2 linked regions of the Homo sapiens genome follow. The gene in region 1 interacts genetically with each later gene. Each region holds a gene or a part of one and is shown in the gene's direction. Other genes may lie near its edges. The genes, in order: GRAP2 and MAP4K1.

Region 1 (11,760 bases):
CCACTGTCCAGTGTCATTATGCACATGTACACATGTGTGCACACACCCACACAGAGACATCTTTGTAGATGTAACGCCCCCAGGTTGCACTGCAATGTATACACCGCCCTTTCTCAGCCTCTCCCCTATATACTCTGATTGCCCCTCTCCTACACACACATACTTGACCTCCTCTACCATGGAAACCTCGCTGGTCCTCTCCACTCCCTACCATCCCAGGGAAACAAATCACTCCCTCTTCAGCTCCTCCCCAACATTTCACATAAACTTCACTCATTTCCAGGCACTTATGACTTTGCCTCACATGGCAGCTATTTATAGGCAGGCCATGACCCTGTGGTCTCATGCACCCTCTATTTCTACCTCTCATTGCTGCCTTTGCCCCGTGGGATCCTAATTGCTCGTTTATGTGTTGTCTACTCCACTAGCAAAAGCTGTGCAAGGGCAGGGGCTGTTTCTGCCTCAATGTCTAGAAGAGCTGTGCCTAGAACTCCCTGACACTTGACGAATGAATGAACTTTCAATTCCTCTCCATTCCCTGAGAGCAATGTCATGCACGTGTGCACACAATGCCAGGTTCGTCTTTGTGTCTTCACAGCATCTAACACAAGTCATGGCCCAAAATAGATGCCCAGTACATATTTCTTGAATTGCTAAATTGCATTTCTTCCTGTTCATTTAGAATTCCATTGGAAAGCCAACCCCCTCCCTCTTTTCAAATTCTGTCCATTGCAGGTAAAGAGCAAAATGGGGAGGGCTTGTTGACTGAGCCCCACAGAATGTCTACAGGATGGTGATTGGTTCCCATGGCTGGGACTCCCCACATGTGATTGCAATGTCTGCCCCCCACCTTCCTCAATGGGTAACACACCCAGGATCCTCACAAATACTTTCAAAGCCAGCTCCTGACTACCCCAGCAATTCGCTTCTGGGATTCTCTGACTTGTTTGGCCTTTTGTGCTAAAGACTAAACAGAGGTTTTCATTAGAAAGGTACAAAAAAGTCTGAGCAGCCACCCACCCTCAACAGACCATCAGTTTCCTGGGGCAGAGGCCCCAGCTTATTTATCTCCATATTTCATGCACCTAAGTGCAATCAGCAGGTGCTCACTAGATGGTGATCTACACGGCATGTAGATCAAGATGGTGGACAGGAAAACGCTGCCAAATGACTTGATCCTGCTTCTCCTATGACGGAAACATTTGGAAACTCAGGAATCAGATTTTTTTCCTATTCATGCCACAAACCACCATACCTGCAGCTACACACAGCACCAGCCTCACATTTGAATTTGCCATTAAATTTGCCAGTAGCTTTGAAAAATATCTCTTGACCCAGTCCATTTCTGTCTCCTTCTGTAATGCAGCTAATGCGACCTCATTTCTTCCTGCTAAAATAGCAACCTAAAAGCACTAAGAGTTAATTCCACATAATTCATTTCTTCAATACTTCAGATTTTTGCTATGTTTCTAAAAGCTACAATTTCATCCAATTTAAAAATTCTTCCAGCCGTAATTTGGCCCTTCTCTTCCCACGTCTAACTTATTCACAGGCCATGTAACCCAAAAAATCATCTCTTAGGGAACATTATAAGAATTAAGAAACAGTCAAGAGTAAAACTTCAAGTGTTCAGGCTGAACGCCTTGCTCAGGTTTACACGATGGGTACACGAGATAGGGGGAACCGAACAGATGGAGAGATGAGAAGAACAGGAAGTGTGGGGCCCTGGGCCCACAACGGCAGGAGGAAACCATCTCCCCTCCCCTCAAATACTTTTCTTTGCAGAAAATGAGAATTTTTTTTAAAAAAAAACCTCACCTTCTATACATGGTAAAGAGCCTGCAAATTCACCTCTCTAGAAACACAGTGTTAGGCAGACCAAGCACCAGGTGGCGGAGAGAAATGGCTGGCATTGTGGGATAATCTTTCAGTTTCTAGAGGAGGTCTGAGGCATGATAACTAAAATTACAGAGCTGCTTTCAGGTCAGAAAATGAAGTACAAAGTGTGTGGTTTTTTTTTTTTTTTTTTTCTTTTTGAGACAGAGTCTTGCTCTGTTGCCCAGGCTGGAGTGCAATGGCGCAATCTCGGCTCACTGCAACCTCCGCCTCCTGGGTTCAAGCAATTCTCGTGGCTCAGCCTCCCAAGTAGCTGAGATTACAGGCATGCACCACCATGCCTGGCTAATTTTTGTCTTTATGGTAGAGATCAGGTTTTGCCATGTTGGCCAGGCTGGTCTCAAACTCCTGACCTTAGGTGATCCACCCGCCTCAGCCTCCCAAAGTGCTGGGATTATAAGCGTGAGCCATGGCACCCGGCCTCAACGTGTGGTTCTTACGGTGACAAGGTAGTTTCCAAATGGCCTCTTTTACCCCTTTCTGTGTGACATTTGCTACCCTGGCCAAACACCACATTCCCATGTGACGGGAGAAAGGAATTCCAATGCCATGAATTCAGAAGCGATGGATGGAGTGCAGTGTGCTCTTGTGTTTTTACGTGGCTACGAGGCGCTGCTGCTGGGTTTCCTAGTTCTTTTGACCTAGATTTTCTGCTTCCTCCCTTGCCCCCTCAGCACACACATACCCACATGTCCTTAGTGACACCAGCAGTCACATTTGATGTTAGAAACTATAAAGTTTTCTGTTCTCAGCAATCTCAAACTCAAATATGGGACACACTTTTATTCCTTCAGAATAAATGACTAAATTCAAAACATACACACATAATGCTTTAAAGAACGTATAAACCCTTCCATGTCCTATTCAGAGCTGGAGGCCTCCCTCATAAGAATACCACATTTGATGGAATTGTATTTTTTGAAAAGAGTCTACACTTTCTGAAGGACTTTCAGGTACCAGGGCTCATTTGATCCTCACATCAGCTCTGTGAGGTGCTAGGTGGCTATTATTATCTCCATTTTTCAAATGGCTGATTGACTTGGCCAAGATCACATATCTAGTGATGGAGCCAAGCTAGAAACCAGGTCTTCTCGTTCCCAACTCACAACACTGTCCCCTTCCTTCCACCTTGGAGTGATGTTAGAAATAGGTCATCATCTCCACTCAAGCACTTAGTTCTTTCCATTATCTTCCCATCTTCTTTTCTGGGAGAAAGAAGCCCAAGGGCCCTGTGACTTCAACTCCACCCACTTTCTGATGACTCTGAAACCCCAAGCCCCAACCTTAGCCTCTCTCCTGGGTCCAGACTGACATATCCAGCTGCTCCCTGAGCTTTTCTTCTTAGTTGAAGAATTCAACTCACAGTCACCCGCATGCAATCTGAAGCCCATGAGCCCTTTCTCAGCCCTGCCTCCTCTCATGTATCTTCTATTTCTGTAAAGCCGTCACCACCTACTCAGTCTCCCAAGCCAGAAATCCAGTGGCATCCCAGAGTCCTCCTCTCCCTTAGCTTCCAAGATTGGTCAAGAAATCCTGCCTGTTTGCTTCCTGAATTTCTCTAAAATATATCCTCACCTCCTCTTAGCCTAGGCCCTATCATCTCTTGACTGGAGGCCTGCGCTCATCTTCCTGCAGTTTTTCTGCCGACTTTAGCCTTGCAATCTATCTTCACATTCTGATCTCTGATACAGAGCTCTGTCGCTCTCTCGCTCTCTCTTAATTAGAGACAGAGTCTCTCTCTGTTGTCCAGGCTGTAGTACAGTGGTACAATCAGAGCTCACTACAGCCTTTAACTCCTGGGCTCACACCCTCCTCCCGCTTCAGCCTCCTGAGTAGCTGGGACTACAGGTGCGCTTCCACCACGCCTTGCTAAGTTTTATTTTTATTTTCATAGAGACAAGGTCTCGCTTTGTTGCCCAGGCTGGTCTCAAACTCCTGGGCTCAAGCGATCGTCCACTTGGGCCTCCCAAAGTGCTGGGATTACAGGCATGAGCCATCGCACCCAGCCAGAGCTCTTTCTGAACTCTAATTCTTACTGTTACTTCCCTGCTCAAAATCCTTTAAGGGCTCCCCCTACATTTCAAGATATTCACAGTCTACATTCCAGCCACCTGGAGGCATTTCATTCCCAGAACACACCACACCTCCTCAGAGCTGAAGGAGGAAGTCCATTGCCATCTGACTTGGCCTCAGTAACTCCTTTCGTTGCCAAGGCAAGTGGTCTCTCCTCTACATATGGATGCCTTTTCTATCTATTTCTGCTTTCTTCTTTATCATCACACTTCTATCAGTTAAGATATTTTCAGGAGCAAGAAACATAAACTAAAAATGGCTTAAACAATAACAAAGACTTGTAATTTCTCAAAGTCCAGAAGTAGGAAGGCTCCTGGGTATCATCTAATTCAGCGGTTCAGTGACATTATCAGAGTTCTTTCCATCTTTTGCTCTGCTATCCTTATTTAGAATTATTGTTCTAGTCTATATCAAAGACTTAAAAAAAATTTTTTTTTTGAGAGAGGCTTGCTCTGTTGCCCAGGCTGGAGTCCAGTGGCAAGATCACGGTTCACTGCAACCTTGCCTCCTGGGTTCAAGCAATTCTCCTGCCTCAGCCTCCCGAGTAGCTGGGATTACAGGCATGTGCCACCAGGCCCGGCTCCTTTTTGTATTTTTAGTAGAGATGGCATTTCACCATGATGGACAGGCTGGTCTCGAACTCCTGGCCTCAAGTGATCTATGTGCCTTGGCCTCTCAAAGTGCTGGGATTACAGGCGCGAGCCACCACACCTGGCCTCAGACTTTCAAAACATTCTCAGTGGCGGTGTCAAATATTTTGTCTTTTAATGGTGAATCTCATTTTTTGAGAAACCAGAAGCCACATACAGTCAAGTCTGGTGAGTAATATGAGTAACTGAGGTAGACAATAACATTTGGGGTCACAGTCAAAGTCAGGCCACAGAGTAACAAGACAGAACTTTTGGTTTTGTTTGGGATCTGGCTTTAAAAGCAAGTTTAGAAAAGGCATCCCAAGTATCTTGGGTTCCAGCCAAATATCTGTGAAATACACAGCATGTGAACACAAAGAGTTACTGTTTCCAAAGCTGGCCCCACTGGGATGTTTAAGTTTTAATCTGCCTGTTTAAAAAACAATAACAAATTGAATTTTTGAAAAGTTTCCTGGGCCTGGTGGCTCACGCCTGTAATCCCAGCACTTTGGGAGGCCAAGGCAGGTGGATCACTAGGTCAAAGGATCAAGACAGTCCCGGCCAATATGGTAAAACCCCGTCTCTCCTAAAAATATGAAAAATTAGCCAGGTGTAGTGGCGCATGCCTGTAATCCCAGCTACTCAGGAGGCTGAGGCAGGGGGATCGCTTGAACCCAGGAGGTGGAGGTTGCAGTGAGCTGAGATCCCGCCACTGCACTCCAGCCTGGCGACAGAGCAAGACTCTGTCTCAAAAAAACGAAAAACAACAACAAAAAAAAGAGAAAAGTTTCCTGGTTACCTGGAAGAGAAAAAAAAAAATACACCGTGGAGTAACCATTCTTCCTTCTCACCATCTGCTGAGATGAGGAACTTAAGGTGCTAACTGGGACAAATGAATTTCCAAAATAGAAAAAGGGATTCAGGGAAGTCCTTGAGTGCTGAATTTGGGAGGCCAAGCCACAGTGGGGTGACATGAGTGGACGGCACAAGTGGACAGAAATAACCTGGGGTCAGGAGAAGCTGACTCCAAAGGTAAACCCACGGCTCCTCCACAGGCCTGGGGTAAATCCTAGAACAGCTGTTGAGTTCTTTCAACTTATTAACATATTTTCCTCTAAGTCCAAAAGGGCCTTCTTTGCCTGGCAGCCCCTTTCTCTTGTTTTTTTGGTGTCCTCCCTCCAATGTCTTTGTCTTTCCTTTTCTTCCATGTAGATTTTAAGTAACCAAGAGGAGTGGTTTAAGGCGGAGCTTGGGAGCCAGGAAGGATATGTGCCCAAGAATTTCATAGACATCCAGTTTCCCAAGTAAGTATCTGCAGCCTGCTGAGATGGGCCTAGCCACACACACTCCTCTTACATTTCCAGCAGTCACTACAGTTATCCATGGGAACCCAAGACATTGTCAAAAATGGCTGCCTCTGGAGCTCTCTCCGGAGAGCCTCCAGAGCATGCAGCTGAAGGCCAGGGCAGGAGGGAGACTTTGCATTTCATTTCATTCCCTTTTGATGTTTACACCATGTGCATGTATTGCTATTTTAAGTTGTTCTTAACTTTTTTTTTTTTTTTTTGGGAGTTGGGGTCTCCCTCTGTCACCCAGGCTGGAGTGCGGTGACTCCATCACCACTCACTGCAGCCTAAAACTCCTGGGCTCAAGCCATCCTCTCACCTCAGCCTCCCAAGTAGCTGGGATTACAGGCACATGCCACCACGCCAGGCTAGTTTTTGTATTTTTAGTAGAGACAGGGTTTTACCATGTTGGCCAGGCTGGTCCCAAACTCCTGACCTCAAGTGATCTGCCGCCTCAGCCTCCCAAAGTGCTGGGATTACAGGCGTGAACCACCATGCCTGGCCTATTTTAAGTTTTGGGTTTTTTTGGGTTTTTTTATTCATGTGTTTATTTGTTTTGAGACAGAACCTTGCTCTGTTGCCCAGGCTGGAGTGCAGTGGCATGATCTCGGCTCATTGCAATTCTCCTGCCTCAGCCTCCCTAGTAGCTGGGATTACAGGTGCATGCCACCACACCCAGCTAACTTTTGTATTTTTAGTAGAGATGGGGTTTCACCATGATGGACAGGCTGGTCTCAAACTCTTGACCTCAGGTGATCCACCCGCCTCGGCCTCCCAAAGTGCTGGGATTACAGGTGTGAGCCACTGCACCCGGCCTATTTTAAGTTTTTATAAAATGAGTTTGTAAACTCAAATTATCTATAGTGATTTCAATCACGGCGTTCCCCAGAATTCCAAAGGGGACGCTATTGGCCACCCCACTTCGGGAGCTGCTCTCCTAAGCGCTTCTCTGTGACCTCCTAATCCTAACCATCCTCACCAGGCTCTCACCCTTCACTCAGTGGGTGGACAGACACTCCCTGCCTTCAGTAAAGCATGCTCACCCCAATGAGAGAAGTCAGCGGGGGGAAGGGGAAATTCTCTTCCTAAAGAGGAAATGAAAAATTGAGATTGGGCTTCGTTTGTCTCAAGAATTGACCACAAGGGTTAGATAGAAATCTAATCTTGCCTCAGAACCAGGGTCTAGCTCAAAGAGCAAAAGCTTGTTAGAAAACCACAGTAGTATTGGTGACTCCAGCAAGGTGCAAGAGCACCAGTCTTGGTAAACCTGAACTGACCACCAAACCAAGAGAATGACCACTGACCTTGACGGAACCCTTGATGCTGCCCAGGAATCTGCTAGGTGACCTCTGCATACCCCACGTGCTCCTCAAACCTTCAGCCCCTCCGTGCATCACTCTTAGCCCGTGACCTTGATTCCAGGTTCTCTGGAACAATGAAAGCCACCAGAAGTGAAGCTCCCAGACCCCCCTCCCCCACCGCATCCACCTGCCTCCTGCAAGTGTGCTCAAACAGTCGGCCTTTCCTGCAGCTGGCTGGAAGGAACTGTCACTGCTTCTAGCAGAAATTCTCCTCTCTCTCTCTTCCACGTCAACCTCCTTTCCCTCTCTGCTGGATCATTCCTGTCAGCAAACACACACGCTGCAATTTCTCCCAACTTACCAAAACACAAACAAACAAAACCAAACCCAGAGGCCAGGTGGGTTTTGTTGTGGCTGATGCCTGTAATCCCAGTCCTTTGAGAGGCTGAGGGAGGAGGATCACTTGTGGCTAGGAGTTTGAGACCAGCCTGGGCAACATAGCGAGCCCCATCTCTACAAAAAATTTTTAAAAATTAGCTGGTCGTGGTGGCATGCGCCTATAGTCCCAGCTGCTTGGGAGGCTGAGGCAGGAGGATCGCTTGAGCCTGGGAGTTCAAGGCTGTGGTGGACCATGATTATATCACTGCACTCCAGCCTGGGCAGCAGAGAGAGACTCTGTTTCAAAGAAAAAAAAAATTTAAATAAATAAATAAATCAAGAAAATTCTTAATCCCAAATCCCCTTCCACTTGCCACTCCATCTCTTCAAAAGGAGTGTGTGCATTTGCTACTTCCAACTCCTCATCTCCCGACCCTTCCCACCAGGCTCCCCATGGGCTGTAGCTCCCAGGGGTCATCTCAGCATGACCTGCCCTGGGGATCCCCCCTCCCACTGGAACACCTCTTTCATTTTGGCTCCAGGACGTCCTTCCTCCGGTTGTCCTCCCACTGCCCTGGCTTCTCCTCCTCAGTCTCTTGTGTTGGTTCCTCCCACTCCCCAGTCCCCTATAGGTTTAGAATGTCTCCTTTTCAGTGAGGTCTTTCTCATCACCATACCTTACATTAATCTCCCACCCACAGCGCCCCATCTCTCCTCTCAGTTTTCATGTTCTCCACAGCACTTACCATCATCTGGCACGCTTCAGATCTTAATTATTTTGTTCTTTTGTGTGTGTCCCCCTCGACTAGAATGTAAGCTCCCTGAGGGCAGGGGTGTGTGTCTGTTCTGCCCACTACTGTGTCCCCAGTGCCCAGGAGGGGCCCAGCACAGTACTAGATGTTCAGTAAAGCTGTTGAATGAATGAATGAATGAATGAACGAACGAATATGTATTATTGAAACCATGACCACTCATGTCTAATATGCAATGTGTGGTGATTTTTACAAATCTTTAAAGAAGCCCCCTATCAGATTGCAGTCAGAGGACAAATGTGTATTTCCTAAATCCCCTTCACTTCTGAAATGTTTCCTTTGCGATATGGCTGCTGTGGTGCATACTCCATTCCTCTTCCCATCCCCATTACATTTCCCACACGTGGCAGTGGTGTGTGTGGTGGCCTCTTGTTTAGCCCTGTAGAATTGTGTGGCAAATACTCAGGCAGAATCTCCAGGCCACCAGAAACTGCTGCTTTCAGCCCTCTCAGAGCACAGCCAAACTTCCCCCTCAGTCCCAGTGGGGGACTCAGTCTCCAGTAAGTACATCCTTCCTGCTACCTATGTCTCAGTTTCCCAAATTCTAGAAAGCACAGAGAATTGCTCACAAAGGAATCCAAAGCCAAGGCCTGACGGGCTTTTATCTTAAAGGAACATGCGTATGAGCCTTCTGGTGACAGCAATTAGAGCAGCCACCTTGAAGCAATGTGACACAGTCCCACCTTTGGCCGCTGAGTGATTGCAGACACTCATTTTGCTTGTCTGTGGTGGAGAGAGGTCTCTGGCCTCCTGCTTTGAGGCTGCAGCCACAGCTTGCCTGGCCCTGTGTAAGTGTTTGACCTATTTCATACATGCCACGCTGTATGCAGCTGTACCTCCAGGGGCTGCCACCCTGACCATTCTGCTAAAAGAGTAATTTCTCCTGTTTCTTCTTTTCCACAGTAAAGATTATTTCCCAGCCTGGATTTTTGGGGCAGGCCCAGGATCTGGTTGTATAGACGCCGCTCTCTGGCGGCTGCCAGCCTCGCTGATTTCCAAGCATGTACACTGGACTCCCTAGGAACACTGCAGCCTCTGCTAGGCACACTGAGCAAAGCCCCCTTGTGCTCCATGCCAGCCTAGGTAACGTGACGCCCTGGGCTGTAACTTTCCTTTAATACCCAGGGAGGAACCTCTAGGCCACTGAGACCTCAGGGCAGGCATGAGCACCCCAGGCCCTGCTCAGCCGGCTGCACCTGGTTGGCTCCAGTGCCTGAAGCCTTCCCTTCCCTCCCCAGTGCATCCTCTGTCCTCGCAGCTCTGGTCTATCTCTTCCGCAGCTGCCGGCAGGCGGCTGCTTCCTGCAGTGAGTCACTCCCACACTGCCCCATTTTGGTGCAGCGACACATTTCCATGATTCGTTTCCCAGGCTGGAGAGAGACTTCTCCTGGAGAGAAGGAACAAAGAGGGTGAATCAAGGGGAATGCTCCCTCGCCTTTCCTGAAAGCTGCCTGGAGCACTGGTTTGATTTCAAACAGCACCTGGTCTCTCTCTGCTCCCTACTGTACAGAGTCCCCAGCCTCTTTCCCTCTGGGTCACCTCTTCTCCACGTCTCCCTCTTGTCACTCCTGTGTCTCATCCTGATCCTTTTGTTTGATCTCGCCCCCACAGATGGTTTCACGAAGGCCTCTCTCGACACCAGGCAGAGAACTTACTCATGGGCAAGGAGGTTGGCTTCTTCATCATCCGGGCCAGCCAGAGCTCCCCAGGGGACTTCTCCATCTCTGTCAGGTACTGACCATTCCTGACACTGCCTTGGCCCTTCTCGGCCTGTTAACCTCACAGAATGCTGAAGCCATGAAGGGACCTCTGGAATATGACCCAATGGTCAGAAGCATGGTGGCCTAGGGGCCAAGCATGGCAGCAGCTTCACAACCTGCTGCTCCCAGTGCCTTCCCAAAACATGCACACACCACTCTTTAGAACACTGGTGTGTGTTTGAAATTATTTCTACGCCCATCTGCCTCCCCTTCTAGCCCAGGTGCTTCTGGAAGGGCAGGATTTTCCTCTACTTCATCTTTATGCCTTTAACAGTGTCTTGCATAAAAGAGAGACACTCAGTGAGTATTTGTGGAAGGAAGGAGGGATAGGAGGAGGAGAACTCCCACTTGTCCAGATCCATCTGGGGGTTTAAATCTTAACCTTTTCTTTTATGATTGATGCATATCTGAAGAAGAGTCAGAGAAAAATAGAAATCTCAAGTCACTGCTGTAGGATATACAGGGGCGGAAAAGTTGTGGCACCTTTCTTTGCCCATCAGAGGAGTCACAGCTGACACTCCTACAAGACAGGTTAACAAGAGGAGAGTGGACACATTTATTTAATCAAAGACTTGTGTGACACAGAAGCCTTCAGAAATGAAGACCCAAGACCCAGGGAAAGCCGTCTATTTTTATGCTTAGGTTTGTCAAAGGACAGACAGCCCTGTAGAAATGGGATTGGACAAAGGGGGTTTGATCTAAGGTAACAGACTGAGGTAGGAAACTGAACAAGGCCTGTCCCAAGTCTTCTTTTTTTTTTTTTTTTTTGGAGACAGCTGTTGCCCAGGCTGGAGTGCAGTGACGCAATCATTGCTCACCACAGCCTCTGTGTCCCAGGCTCAAGCCATCTTCCCACCTCAGCCTCTCAAGTAGCTGGGGATACAGGTGCACACCACCACACCTGGCTAATATTTTTTTAACTTATTTCTTTGTAGAGACTAGGTCTTACTGTGTTGCCTGGGCTGATCTCAAACTCCTGGCCTCGAGTAATCCTCCTGCCTTGGCCTCCCCCATAGTGACCCTTCTAGTCTCTCTGACCCACTGTGGGGAAGAGGAATTCTAATTTCTATGACTCACTCAGGGGGAGAAAGAGGAGCGGGAGACAGGAGGGCAGGAGAAGGCCAAAGGAAGACTTTGCTTCCAAGGCTGCTTCTGAAACCTTCCCATCTCCTTTGGTTCGAAGCACTCAGCATGCCAAGGGGTGTCGTTTTCTGAGCCCCAACAAATACATGTATAGTTGTAGGCAGCTGAACAAAAAGAAAGGCTACTTCAACACAGTACAGTACAGCAAGACCGAAAACCACAGAACAGAGGGCCAGGAGTGGGGGAGGACTGTAACAGCGAAATCTCACTAAGGTGCAGCAACCCATAGGAAGTGACTCAGTCCACGCGTAGACATTACACAGCCCCAAACTCAGAAGCCCAGTTCGGAACACACTGTGTGTGGTCAGCATGTTGAGGATCGCAAGTCACGTATCAGACTTCACCACATGTGAAACTGCAAGAATATAATGCTGTTAGCAGATCAGGAGAAGTACAGCAAAACCTTACTGTCAAGTTATTGG
Region 2 (11,573 bases), on another chromosome or scaffold:
GCGCTGCTGACCGGGCCAGGCTCTGAGCTGCCCGCTGTGTGCATCGGCGTGAGCCCCGGGCGGCCGGGGAAGTCGGTGCTCTTCCACACGGTGCGCTTTGGCGCGCTCTCTTGCTGGCTGGGCGAGATGAGCACCGGTGAGTGGGGCGGAGTCTTGCTGAGGGCGGGGCTTATCAGATCCGGAGGGGCGGAGCTGGAGGCGGGGCTTCGCTTAGCCTGAGGCACTACGGGACTGAGAAAGGGCTGGAAGGGCGGAGAAGGGAGAATGGCAGGTTTTAGTTAACTGGGGAGATTGATGATGGGGTGGGACCGGGATGGTGGGCGGGGTTTAGCCCACTTGCTTGTGAACTGAGGCGGTGGCTAAAGCACAGGTACTGGCCTTCTGGGGGTGGTGTGGGGAAAGGGGAATGGGGTGGGGTCAATCCTTAACCCACTCCCCCCAAACAGAGCACAGGGGACCCGTGCAGGTGACCCAGGTAGAGGAAGATATGGTGATGGTGTTGATGGATGGTGAGAACCCTCCTTCCTCCCCTTCCTCCCCACCCCTCCAGCTGCAGTCCCTAGATCTCTGCCTCCGAACTTGTGCTTCTCAGAACCCCCTGAGCCCCTCTGGGCCTTGCCCCTGTCCTACATAGCTTTCACACTGAATTTATGGATTGGTCCCTTAGTAACCCTCTAAGCCTTGCTCACAGTTCTTAAAACCGTCTATCTCCTTCCAGGCTCTGTGAAGCTGGTGACCCCGGAGGGGTCCCCAGTCCGGGGACTTCGCACACCTGAGATCCCCATGACCGAAGCGGTGGAGGCCGTGGGTCTGTGCAGGGACGGGAGAGCCCAGGATCAGGGGTGGAAACTCAAGTGATCCCCAAGGGTAACGGGCATTGCTTTCTCCCCAGCTATGGTTGGAGGTCAGCTTCAGGCCTTCTGGAAGCATGGAGTGCAGGTGTGGGCTCTAGGCTCGGATCAGGTAAGCCCCTCCATCCAAACTCCACATCACTGCCCCCCAGCCTCCATCATGACATTCATCAGATGGGCTCCGAGAACTCCTGAGTCAGAGTGTGAAGTCCTGGAGGGGAAACATCTTCCAAATTTCAGTTCAGATAGATCCCCTTCTTTGCCCCAGGATTTATTTTTTATTTTATTTTTATTTATTTATTTATTTAAGACGGAGTTTCACTCTTGTTGCCCAGGCTGGAGTGCAGTGGTGCGATCCCGGCTCACTGCAACCTCCACCTCCCGGGTTCACGCGATTCTCCTGCCTCGGCCTCCCAAGTAGCTGGGATTACAGGCATGCGCCACCACAGCTGGCTAATTTTTGTATTTTCAGTAGAGACGGGGTTTCACCATGTTCATCAGGCTGGATGGTCTTGAACTCTTGACCTGGGGTGATTCACCCGCCTTGGCCTCCCAAAGTGCTGGGATTACAGCTGTCAGCCACCACACCCGGCCTATTTTATAGATAGATAGATAGATAGATAGATAGATAGATAGATAAAATTTATTTATTTTTGGAGATGGATTCTTGCTCTGTCACCCAGGCTGGAGTGTAGTGGCGCGATCTCGGCTCACTGCAGCCTCTGCCTCCCAGGTTCAAAGAATTCTCCTGCCTCAGCCTCCTGAGTAGCTGAGACTACAGGTGCATGCCGCCATGCTTAGCTAATTTTTTTGTATTTTTAGTAGAGACAGGGTTTCACCATGTTGCCCAGGCTAGTCTCAAACTCCTGAGCTCAGCCAATCTGCCTTCCTTGGCCTCACAAAGTGCTAGGATTACAGGTGTGAGCCACCACTCCTGGCCATTTTTATATATTTTTTGAGACAGAGTCTCGCTCTGTCACCCAGGGCAGAGTGCAGTGGCATGATCCGAGCTCACTGCAACCTCTGCCTCCTGGGTCCAAGTGATTCTCCTGCCTCAGCCTCCCGAGTAGCTGGGATTACAGGTACACTCCATCATGCCCAGGTAATTTTTGTATTTTTAGTAGAGACGGGGTTTTGTCATGTTGGCCAGACTGGTCTCGAACTCCTGACCTCAAGTGATCTGCCCGCCTCAGCCTCCGAAAGTGCTGGGAGTACAGGCGTGAGCTACTTCACCCGGCCTGTTTGTTTTGGAGATAGGGTCTCTCTCTCTTGTCCAGGCTGAAGTGCAGTGGTGCAACCATAGCTAGCTGTAGCCTTGACTTTCTGGGCTCAAGCAATCCTCCCTCCTCAGCCTCTCAAGTGGCTTGGATTACAGGTGTGAGCCACTGCACCTGGCTGCTCTTGGATTTCTTGAGTCCCAATCTCATCCTGGGCCACTACTGTGACCTTGGGCTGGCAACGTTGCTTCTCTTTAAGCTTCTGTTCCCCAACTGTAAAATGGGGACCACTATAGAGATATATGGATAGTTAAGACAAGACTGTCTGGGTTGGAATTCAGCTGAGTGGCCTTGGGCAAATGACTTAACCTTCCTGTGCCTCACTGTCCTCATTTGGAAAATGGTGTTTATCTCACAGAATACTGTGTCAGACTTTGCCCTTACACTTTAGTATTTTTATTTATTTATTTTTGCTCACTCAGTTCCTTCCCTCTTTTTGAAATGGAGTCTCGCTCTGTTCCCCAGACTGGAGTGTTAGTGGCACAATCTTGGCTCATTGCAACCTCTGCCACCCAGGTTCAAGCGATTCTCGTGCCTCACCCTCACAAGTAGCTGGGACTACAGGCATGCGCCACCACAGCTGGCTAATTTTTGTATTTTCAGTAGAAATACAAAAATTATCTCAGCTGGAGATCTCGGCTCCAGTGGCACGCCCAGTGGCGCAATCTCAGCTCAATGCAATTTCTGCCTCCCGGGTTCAAGTGATTCTTCTGCCTCAGATCCTGAGTAGCTGGGACTATAGGCGCGCACCACCATGCCTAGCTAATTTTTGTATTTTTAGTAGAGACGAGGTTTTGCCATGTTGGCCAGGCTGGTCTCGAACTCCTGACCTCAGGTGATCCACCCACTTCGGCCTCCCAAAGTGCTGGGATTACAGGCGTGAGCCACCGTGCCCAGCTCCTTGCTGTCTTTAAGGGAGCCATGTTCGTAGTGACAGTGGAGGTATCTTCCAGGCACTGAGACACACACTTTTTTTCCCTAGCTGCTACAGGAGCTGAGAGACCCTACCCTCACTTTCCGTCTGCTTGGCTCCCCCAGGTATGTTGTGGGGTGGGGTGCAGAAGGACCTGGGAGGGGGCTTCTGATGTGAAGAGAGCATTCTGAGGTGTCCCCAGCAAGGTATCTCTAGCCTGGACAGTGTCTCACCTGGTCACCCTGCTTCCATCCCTGCTCCCTAGAGTCTGTTCTCTGCACTGCAGCCACGGGGGCGTTCTCTCTTTTTGTTTTGTTTCTCACTGTACTCAAAGGCTGGAGTGCAATGGCACGACCACGGCTCACTGCAGCCTTGACCTCCCAGGCTCAAGTGATCCACCCACCTCAGCTTCCTGAGTATCTGGAACTACCGGCATGTGCCACCATGCCCAGCAATTCTTTTATTTATTTATTTATTTATTTATTTATTGAGATGGAGTTTTGCTTTTGTTGCCCAGGCTGGAGTGCAATGGTGTGATCTTGGTTCACTGCAACCTCTGCCTCCCAGGTTCAAGCGATTCTCTTGCCTCAGCCTCCCAAGTAGCTGGGATTACAGGCATGTGCCACCACACCCGGCTAATACTATATTTTTTAGTAGAGATGGCATTTCACCATGTTGGCCAGGCTGGTCTCGAACTCCTGACCTCGGTGATCCACCTGCCTCGGCCTCCCAAAGTGCTGGGATTATAGGCATGAGCCACTGCACCTGGCCAATCCTTTTATTTTTTAATTTTAATTCTTTTATTTATAAAATTTTTTTAAAATTTATTTTTGACACAGAGTCTCGCTGTGTTGCCCAGGCTGGAGTGCAGTGGCACAATCTCAGCTCACTGCAACCTCTGCCTCCCAGGTTCAAGTGATTCTCATGCTTCAGCCTCCCAAGTAGCTGGGTTTACAGGTGTGTACCACCACATTTGGCTATTTTTTGTATTTTTAGTAGAGACGGGGTTTCGCCTTGTTAGCCAGGCTGGTCTCAAACTACTGACCTCAGGTGATCCAGCTGCCTTGGCCTCCCAAAGTTCTGGGATTACAGGAGTGAGCCACTGCACCTGGCCTTAATTTTATTTCATTTTTGAGACAAGGTCTCATTCTGTTGCGCAGGCTGAAGTGCAGTGTTACACACACAGCTCACTGCAGTCTTGACCTTCTGAGCTCAACTGATCCTCCCACCTCAGCCTCCCAAGTAGCTAGGTCCACAGGCATACACCACCACAACTGGCTAATTTTTAAAATTTTTTTGTAGAGACGGGGTCTTGCCATGTTGCCCTGGCTGTCCTTGAACTGCTGGCCTCAAGCAATCTTCCTACCTTGGCCTCCCAAAATGTTAGGATTACTGGCATGAGCCACCACACCTGGCTGCATTTTTTTTTTTTTTTTGAGACGGATTCTTGCTCTGTTGCCCAGCCTGGAATGCGGTGGCGTGATTTCAGCTCACCACAACCTCCACCCACTGGGTTCACGCGATTCTCCTGCCTCAGCCTCCCGAGTAACTGGGATTACAGGCATGTGCCACTGTGCCCGGCTAATTTTTGTATTTTTAGTAGAGACAGGCTTTCGCCATGTTGTCCAGGCTGCTCTTGAACCCCTGATCTCAGGTGATCTGCCCGCCTCGGCCTCCCAAAGTGCTGGGACTACAGGCATGAGCCACCGTGCCCAGCCCTGGCTGCATTTTTATTTTAGATTTTTATCTTATTAAAAATTTTTAACTATTAAAAATAACTATTTTAACTATTTTGACATAATTTAAAACTCACACTCCCAGAGAAGTTGCAAAAATCCCTTTTATCCAGATTAACCAGATCTTTTTTTTTTTTTTTTTTTGAGATGGAGTCTTGCTGTGTGGCCCAGGCTGGAGTGCAGTGGATCTCCACTCACTGCAACCTCTGCCTCCCGGGTTCAGGCAAGTCTCCTGTCTCAACCTCCTGAGTAGCTGGGACTACAGTTGCACACCACCACGCCCAGCTAATTTTTTTGTTTTTTTAGTAGATGTGGGCTTTCATCATGGTGGTTAGGCTGGTCTCGAACTCTTGACCTCAGGTGATCCACCCACCTCTGCCTCCCAAAGTGCTGGGATTACAGGCGTGAGCCACTGTACCTGGCCAGATGTTAATCTTTTTAACCGCATTTGCCTTATTATTCTTTTTTTTTTCTTTTCTTGAGACAGAGTTTCGCTCTTGTTGCCCAGGCTGGAGTGCAATGGCATAATCTCAGCTCACCACAACCTCCCACTCCTGGGTTCAAGCACTCCTCCTGCCTCAGCCTCCCGAGTAGCTGGGATTACAGGCATGTGCCACCATGCCCGGCCTCTTCTCTTTCTTATGCGCACACACCACACATACAAGTATATGTGTGTGTGTGTGTGTGTGTGTGTGTGTGTGTGTGATTTTTTAATGAATATTTGGGAATGAATTGCAGACGTGATGCCCATTTACCCCTAAAATACTTCAGTGTATGTTTCCTGAATCAAAGCAAGGACATAATGTTACAAACCACAGCACAGCTGTCAAAATCAAGAAAACAACACTGAAACATCACAACCTTCTAATTCATACCCCTACTCAATTTCACCAGTTGGCCAGGTGTGGTGGCTCACGCCTGTCATCCCAGCACTTTGGGAGGCTGAAGTGGGCAGATTACCTGAGGTCAGGAGTTGGAGATGGGCCTGGCCAACATGGAGAAACCCCACCTCTAGTAAAAATACAAAAATTAGCTGGGTGTGGTGGCACGTGCCTGTAATCCCAGCTGGGAGGCTGAGGCAGGAGAATCACTTGAATCGGAGAGGTGGAGGTTGCAGTGAGCCGAGATTACGCCACTGCACTCCAGCCTGGGTGACAGAGCGAGACTCTGTCTCAGAAAACAACAACAACAACAACAAAAAATTTCACCCGTTGTCCTAGTGACGCCCGTGATTATATATATATATATATATATATATATATATATATATATATATTTTTTTTTTTTTTTTTTTTTTCTGGTCCAAGATCATAGGTGGCACTTAGGAGCCATGTTTCTTTATAATTAAGCCGGAAAAAATAATTAAAACTTCTTTTGTCTTAAAGGAGCTTTGACCTTTTTAAAAATTAAAGGAAATTTGTTTTCTAAAATGTCCCTTAACTGTGTTTGAGGTTTCCACGTTCTGAATTTTGGGCAGGAATACTGCAGAAAGATGTCTTTCTCAGTGCATCATTTCAGGAAGTACACAATGCTAGTTTGTCCCATTACTGGTGATATTAACTTCGGTCATTTGGTTAAGGTAGAATCAGCCAGTTCTCTCCACTGTGAAGTTGCTTTTTTCTCCCTTTTTCTTTTTTTTTAAAGATAGATTCTCTCTCTGTCACCCTGGCTGGAGTGCAGTGACGCGATCATGGCTCACTGCAGCCTCGACCTCCTGGGTTCAATCAGTCCTCCCACCTCAACCTCCCGGGTAGCTGGGATGACAGGCGCGTACCACTACACCTGGCTTATTTTCGTATTTTTTGTACAGACAGGGTTTCGCCATGTTACTTAGCCTGGTCTGGAACTCCTGGACTCAAGAGATTCACCTGTGTAGGCTTCCCAAAGTGCTGGGCTTATAGGCAGGGGTCACCGCACCCAGCCTCTGTTTTTCTTTGTAATAAGAAGTATCCCACCGGTCGGGCGCGGTGGCTCACGCCTGTAATCCCAGCACTTTGGGAGGCCGAGGCAGGTGGATCACCTGAGGTCGGGAGTTTGAGACCAGCCTGACCAATGTGGAGAAACCCTGTCTCTACTAAAAATACAAAATTAGCCGGGCATGGTGTTGCATGCCTGTAATCCCAGCTACTCGGGAGGCTGAGGCAGGAGAAGCGCTTGAACCCGGGAGGCGGAGGTTGCAGTGAGCCGAGATCGCGCCATTGCACTCCAGCCTGGGCAACAAGAGTGAACTCTGTCTCAAAAAAAAAAAAAGAAGTATCTTTTGGGGAGATTCACTGAGACGAGGTAAATAGTCTGTAAATACGTTGTTTCTCATCAGATTTTCACCCACTAGTTTTATTGTTTTTTGTTTGTCTTTTGTTGTTGTTTTGAGTCAGAGTCTCACTCTGTCCCCCAGGCTGGAGTGCAGTGGCACGATCTCGCCTCACTGCAACCTCCTCCTCCCAGGTTCAAGCAATTCTCCTGCCTCAGCCTCCCGAGTAGCTGGGATTACAGGTTTGAGCCAACGCACCTGGCCTGCCCACTAGTTTTAGAATCAATTGATTTTTCCCTGAATCTATTATTGTTAGGTGGCTACTAACAATAAATGGTGATTTTCTGATTCTATGTTTCCTTCTGCGTGTGTTAGTTGGCATTCTACTCTAAAGAAGAGCTGTGTCTTCTCCATTCTTCTTTCTTTATACCAGCATGGTCTCATGGATTTTTATTCTGTGGGTTATAGTCTATTACTGTCATTATTTATTTATTTATTTATGAGATGGAGTCTCGCTCTGTCACCCAGGCTGGAGTGCAGTGGTGTGATCTCAGCTCACTGCAACCTCTGCCTCCCAGGTTCAATCGATCCTCCTGCCTCAGCCTCCCGAATAGCTGGGATTACAGGCGTGCACCACCATGCCTGGATAAATTTTTTTTTTTTTTTTTGAGACAGAGGCTCGCTCTGTCGCCCAGGCTGGAGTGCACTGGCGCTATCTCGGCTCACTGCAAGCTCTGGCTCCCAGGTTCACGCCATTCTCCTGCCTCAGCCTCCCGAGTAGCTGGGACTATAGTGCCTGCCACCACACCTGGCTAATTTTTTTTTGTATTTTTAGTAGAGATGGGGTTTCACCGTGTTAGCCAGGATGGACCTGGATAATTTTTGTAGTTTTAGTAGAGATGGGATTCACCATATTGGCCAGGCTGGTCTTGAACTCCTGACCTCAAGTGATCTGCCCCCCTTGGCCTCCCAAAGTGCTGGGATTACAAGCATGAGCCACCATGCCCGGCCTTGTCATTATTTATTTTGAGGCACAAATGGTCTTAAATTTAGCCAGTGGGAACCACTTTAAGTAGCCCCTGTGTCCTTTTGACATGCCAGAAGGGTCACTTTAAATCCAAATCTGATCGTGTCACTGTCTCCCTGCTTAAAATCCTCCCATGGCCTCAAGATAAAGACTCAATCCTGGCCACAGCCCACAAGGCCATGACATCTCCAGCCAAGTCCCAGCCTTTCTCCCACCTCAAATCCTTTGCACAGGCTGTTCTCCCCAGCCAGAACACTCTTCCTTGCCCTTTCACCAAGTTCCCTCCTAACCCCCCTTCAGGCTGCACCATCCATTCTCTGGGGAGTCTGGGCTGACCTCCTGGGTTAGGTTTCCCTGCCAGACATGCCATGCTTTTTTGCACTCATGTAATTCACTGATTCATGTTGATCTCCTTCTCTAGAATGCAAGCTTCCTAAGGGCAGGGACCGTGTCTGCCCATTCACTGCTATAGTTCAGCATGGGGCTGGCACAGTCTCTATTAACTACTTTGTGAATTAATGAATCAATGAACATATGAATGAATAAATGAACTGACTTATCTCTTCCTTCCACAGGCCTGTAGTGGTGGAGACACGCCCAGTGGATGATCCTACTGCTCCCAGCAACCTCTACATCCAGGAATGAGTCCCTAGGGGGGTGTCAGGAACTAGTCCTTGCACCCCCTCCCCCATAGACACACTAGTGGTCATGGCATGTCCTCATCTCCCAATAAACATGACTTTAGCCTCTGCTGTCATCTTGTTTTTCTTGGGGGAAACAATTCCTGGATGTCCACTCCTCCAAAATTTCAGCAGGCCAACACAGTGATGCTGGGGGGCGTAGCACAGATTTATTTTCCAGTACTAGGTCACCTCTCCCCCAGCTGCCTTAGGGGGAGGGGCTTGGGGACTAAGGGGCTTGCTGTGAGAATAAGGCACTTGAGGTGGGGGTGGAGGGCCAGCTGGGGGTGTGTCAGCTAAGCTGGTCCTCATACTGCTTACGGAAACAATCACCAGCTGGGAAGAAATCCCAACATCTCTCTTGGTACATCTTCCAGACATAAGACTCCTAGGATTGGGGATAGAAAGAGTTCATTGGTCACATCTTCAAACCCTTGAGACATATATATATATATATTTTTAGACAGGGTGTTGCTCTGTTGCCCAGGCTGGAGTGCAGTGGCGACAATCACAGCTCACTACAGCCTCCTGGCTCAAGCGATTCTCCACCTCAGTCTCCAGAGTAGCTGGGACTACAGGTGCACACCACCACCCCTGGCTAATTTTTTAATAGAGAAAGGGTCTCGCTGTGTTCCTAGGCTGTCTTGAACTTCTGGTCTCAAGCAATTCTCCCGCTGTGGCCTCCCGAAGTGCTAGGATTGCAGGCGTGAGCCAGGACGCCCAGCCCAAACCCATTTTTTTTGAGATGGAGTATCGCTCTGTCACCTAGGCTGGAGTACAGTGGCATGATCTTGGCTCACTGCAACTTCTGCCTCCTGGGTTCAAGCGATTCTCCCACCTCAGCTTTCCAAGTAGCTGGGATTACAGGCATGCACAACCACGCCCTGCTAATCTTTGCATTTTTAGTAGAGACTGAATTTCACCATGCTGGCCAGGCTGGTCTTGAACTCCTGACCTCAAGTAATCCACCCGCCTTGGCCTCCCAAAGTGTTGGGATTACAGGCGTGAGCCGCCGTGCCCAGCCCCCAGCCCTAACCCTTGATATTGATAGGAGCTTTTTACTGCCACCTACTGACTGGCCTTATGTTAAAGGGCTCCACGTCCTGCCCACTGTCCTCCCATTAACACCCCCTTACCTGACCCGTGTGTTCTGTCTCATCCTTGTTTATCAAATACATCAGGAAAAACCTGAGGGTGAGAGGACCACAGGAGACAAGTCAGAACCACCCTTACCTTATTTTATTTTTCATTTATAGTAGAGAGGAAGTCTTGCTATGTTGCCCAAGCTGGTCTCGAACTCCTGGCCTCAAGTAATCCTCCCCACTTGGCCTCCCAAAGTGCTGGGCTTACAGGTGTGAACCATCTTGCGGGGCCCCACCCTTACCTTCTGATTGGCTGGCAGGGAATCTGCCCACATGGACACTACACCCCCTTTCCTAACTGGCCAAAGCTAAGTACCCCACTGCTGGCTATTGGCAGCCATGCCCCCCACCCTCCTGACTGGCCAGTGTGTCTGCTCACATGTAATTGGCCAGGTTGTGCTCCTCCAGCGTGTGAGTCTCGAAGCCATGCGGTGTCGTATCAAAGTAGTCACTGCCGATTCCACAGATGAAGCACTTGGTCTGTGAGTGGCAAGAGACATCAGAGTGGAGGCCCACTTGACCCCCTGAATCCCGTAATCCCTCTGGGTCACCCCCAGACATGACCTACCTCCATATCCTCCTTCACTTGCTCTTGTTGGTCTCGGAGCTCACCAAAAGCGTCGATGATCAGACCTGGGGTGGCAGGACACAAGTCAGTGCCCGACCTCTGACCTGGTTCAGACTCCCCCCTCTCCAGCTACCTACCTCCAGGGCTTGCCCTCCATCCCCCATTTCCCTAATCTCACCCCTAATCTCGCTTCCTAAGAAGATAGTATTAGGCCTTTATTGGCCGGGTGCGGTGGCTCACGCCTGTAATCCCAGTACTTTGGGAGGCTGAGGTGGGCGGATCATCTGAGGTGAGGAGTTCAAGAGCAGCCTGGCCAACATGGTGAAACCCCCTCACTACTAACAATAAAAAAATAAAAAAAATTAGCTGGGTGTGGTAGCATGTGCCTGTAGTCCCAGCTAATCAGGAGGCTGAGGCAGAAGAATCGCTTGAACCTGGGAGGTAGAGGTTGCAGTGAGCCAAGATTGCACCACTGAACTCTGGCCCGGGCAACAGAGCGAGACTCCCTCTCAAAAAAAAAATTATACATATATATATATAGACACACACACATATATATAAATATATATAAACACATATATAAATATATATAAACACATATATATATAAATAAACATATATATATATATATATCTCAGGCCTTTATTGAGCACTCATATGAGCCAGACACCGAGCGCCTATGAACTGACTTAATCCTGATCACAACCTATGAGGTTAGTACCATTGACACCCTCGTTTTGCAGATGGAGAAACGGAGGCCCCGAGAGGTGACTTGCCCAAGGTCTCACAGTAGCGAGAGGTAGAGATGGGGTATGAATGCAGGCCGACTGGATCCTGGGCCTGCATTCTTAGCCATGGAGCTAGCCTGCCTCCGGGCCCTGAGCGCCCACTCCCAGCACTGACCCTGGATGATGGCCAACAGGATGACGATGACGAAGAAGAAGAAGGTGATGTCGAAGACCACCCTGTAGAGCTCGTATTCGTCACCCGCGGGGTCCTCGATCTCGTCCCCAATGCCTCCGCCAGCCCGGACACCCACGTACATGTGAAACAGGTAACACTGAGGGAGGGGAGCACACTGGTCACTCATTCATTCGACATTCACTGAGTACCAGCCAAGGCCCCGGG

The links.
Region 2: of GRAP2 (region 1) and MAP4K1, changing one enhances a phenotype caused by changing the other (phenotypic enhancement), as found in Homo sapiens cells (one study listed by BioGRID).

The regions. Positions count from the first base shown.
Region 1 is NC_000022.11:39,950,009-39,961,768, forward strand, and holds part of GRAP2 (GRB2-related adapter protein 2), read left to right. Parts: intron 1-5,810; coding exon 5,811-5,902; intron 5,903-10,046; coding exon 10,047-10,166; intron 10,167-10,388; exon of another isoform or gene 10,389-10,911; intron 10,912-11,760. UniProt on the Homo sapiens protein: Interacts with SLP-76 to regulate NF-AT activation. Binds to tyrosine-phosphorylated shc.
Region 2 is NC_000019.10:38,584,875-38,596,447, reverse strand, and holds the end of MAP4K1 (mitogen-activated protein kinase kinase kinase kinase 1), read left to right. Parts: coding exon 1-136; intron 137-446; coding exon 447-509; intron 510-718; coding exon 719-808; intron 809-892; coding exon 893-963; intron 964-3,110; coding exon 3,111-3,166; intron 3,167-7,172; coding exon of another isoform or gene 7,173-7,270; intron 7,271-8,630; coding exon 8,631-8,700; 3' UTR 8,701-8,807; downstream 8,808-11,573. Other genes in the region: RYR1 (ryanodine receptor 1), read right to left, coding at 9,028-9,123, 9,872-9,923, 10,257-10,357, 10,446-10,510, 11,349-11,505. UniProt on the Homo sapiens protein: Serine/threonine-protein kinase, which plays a role in the response to environmental stress. Appears to act upstream of the JUN N-terminal pathway.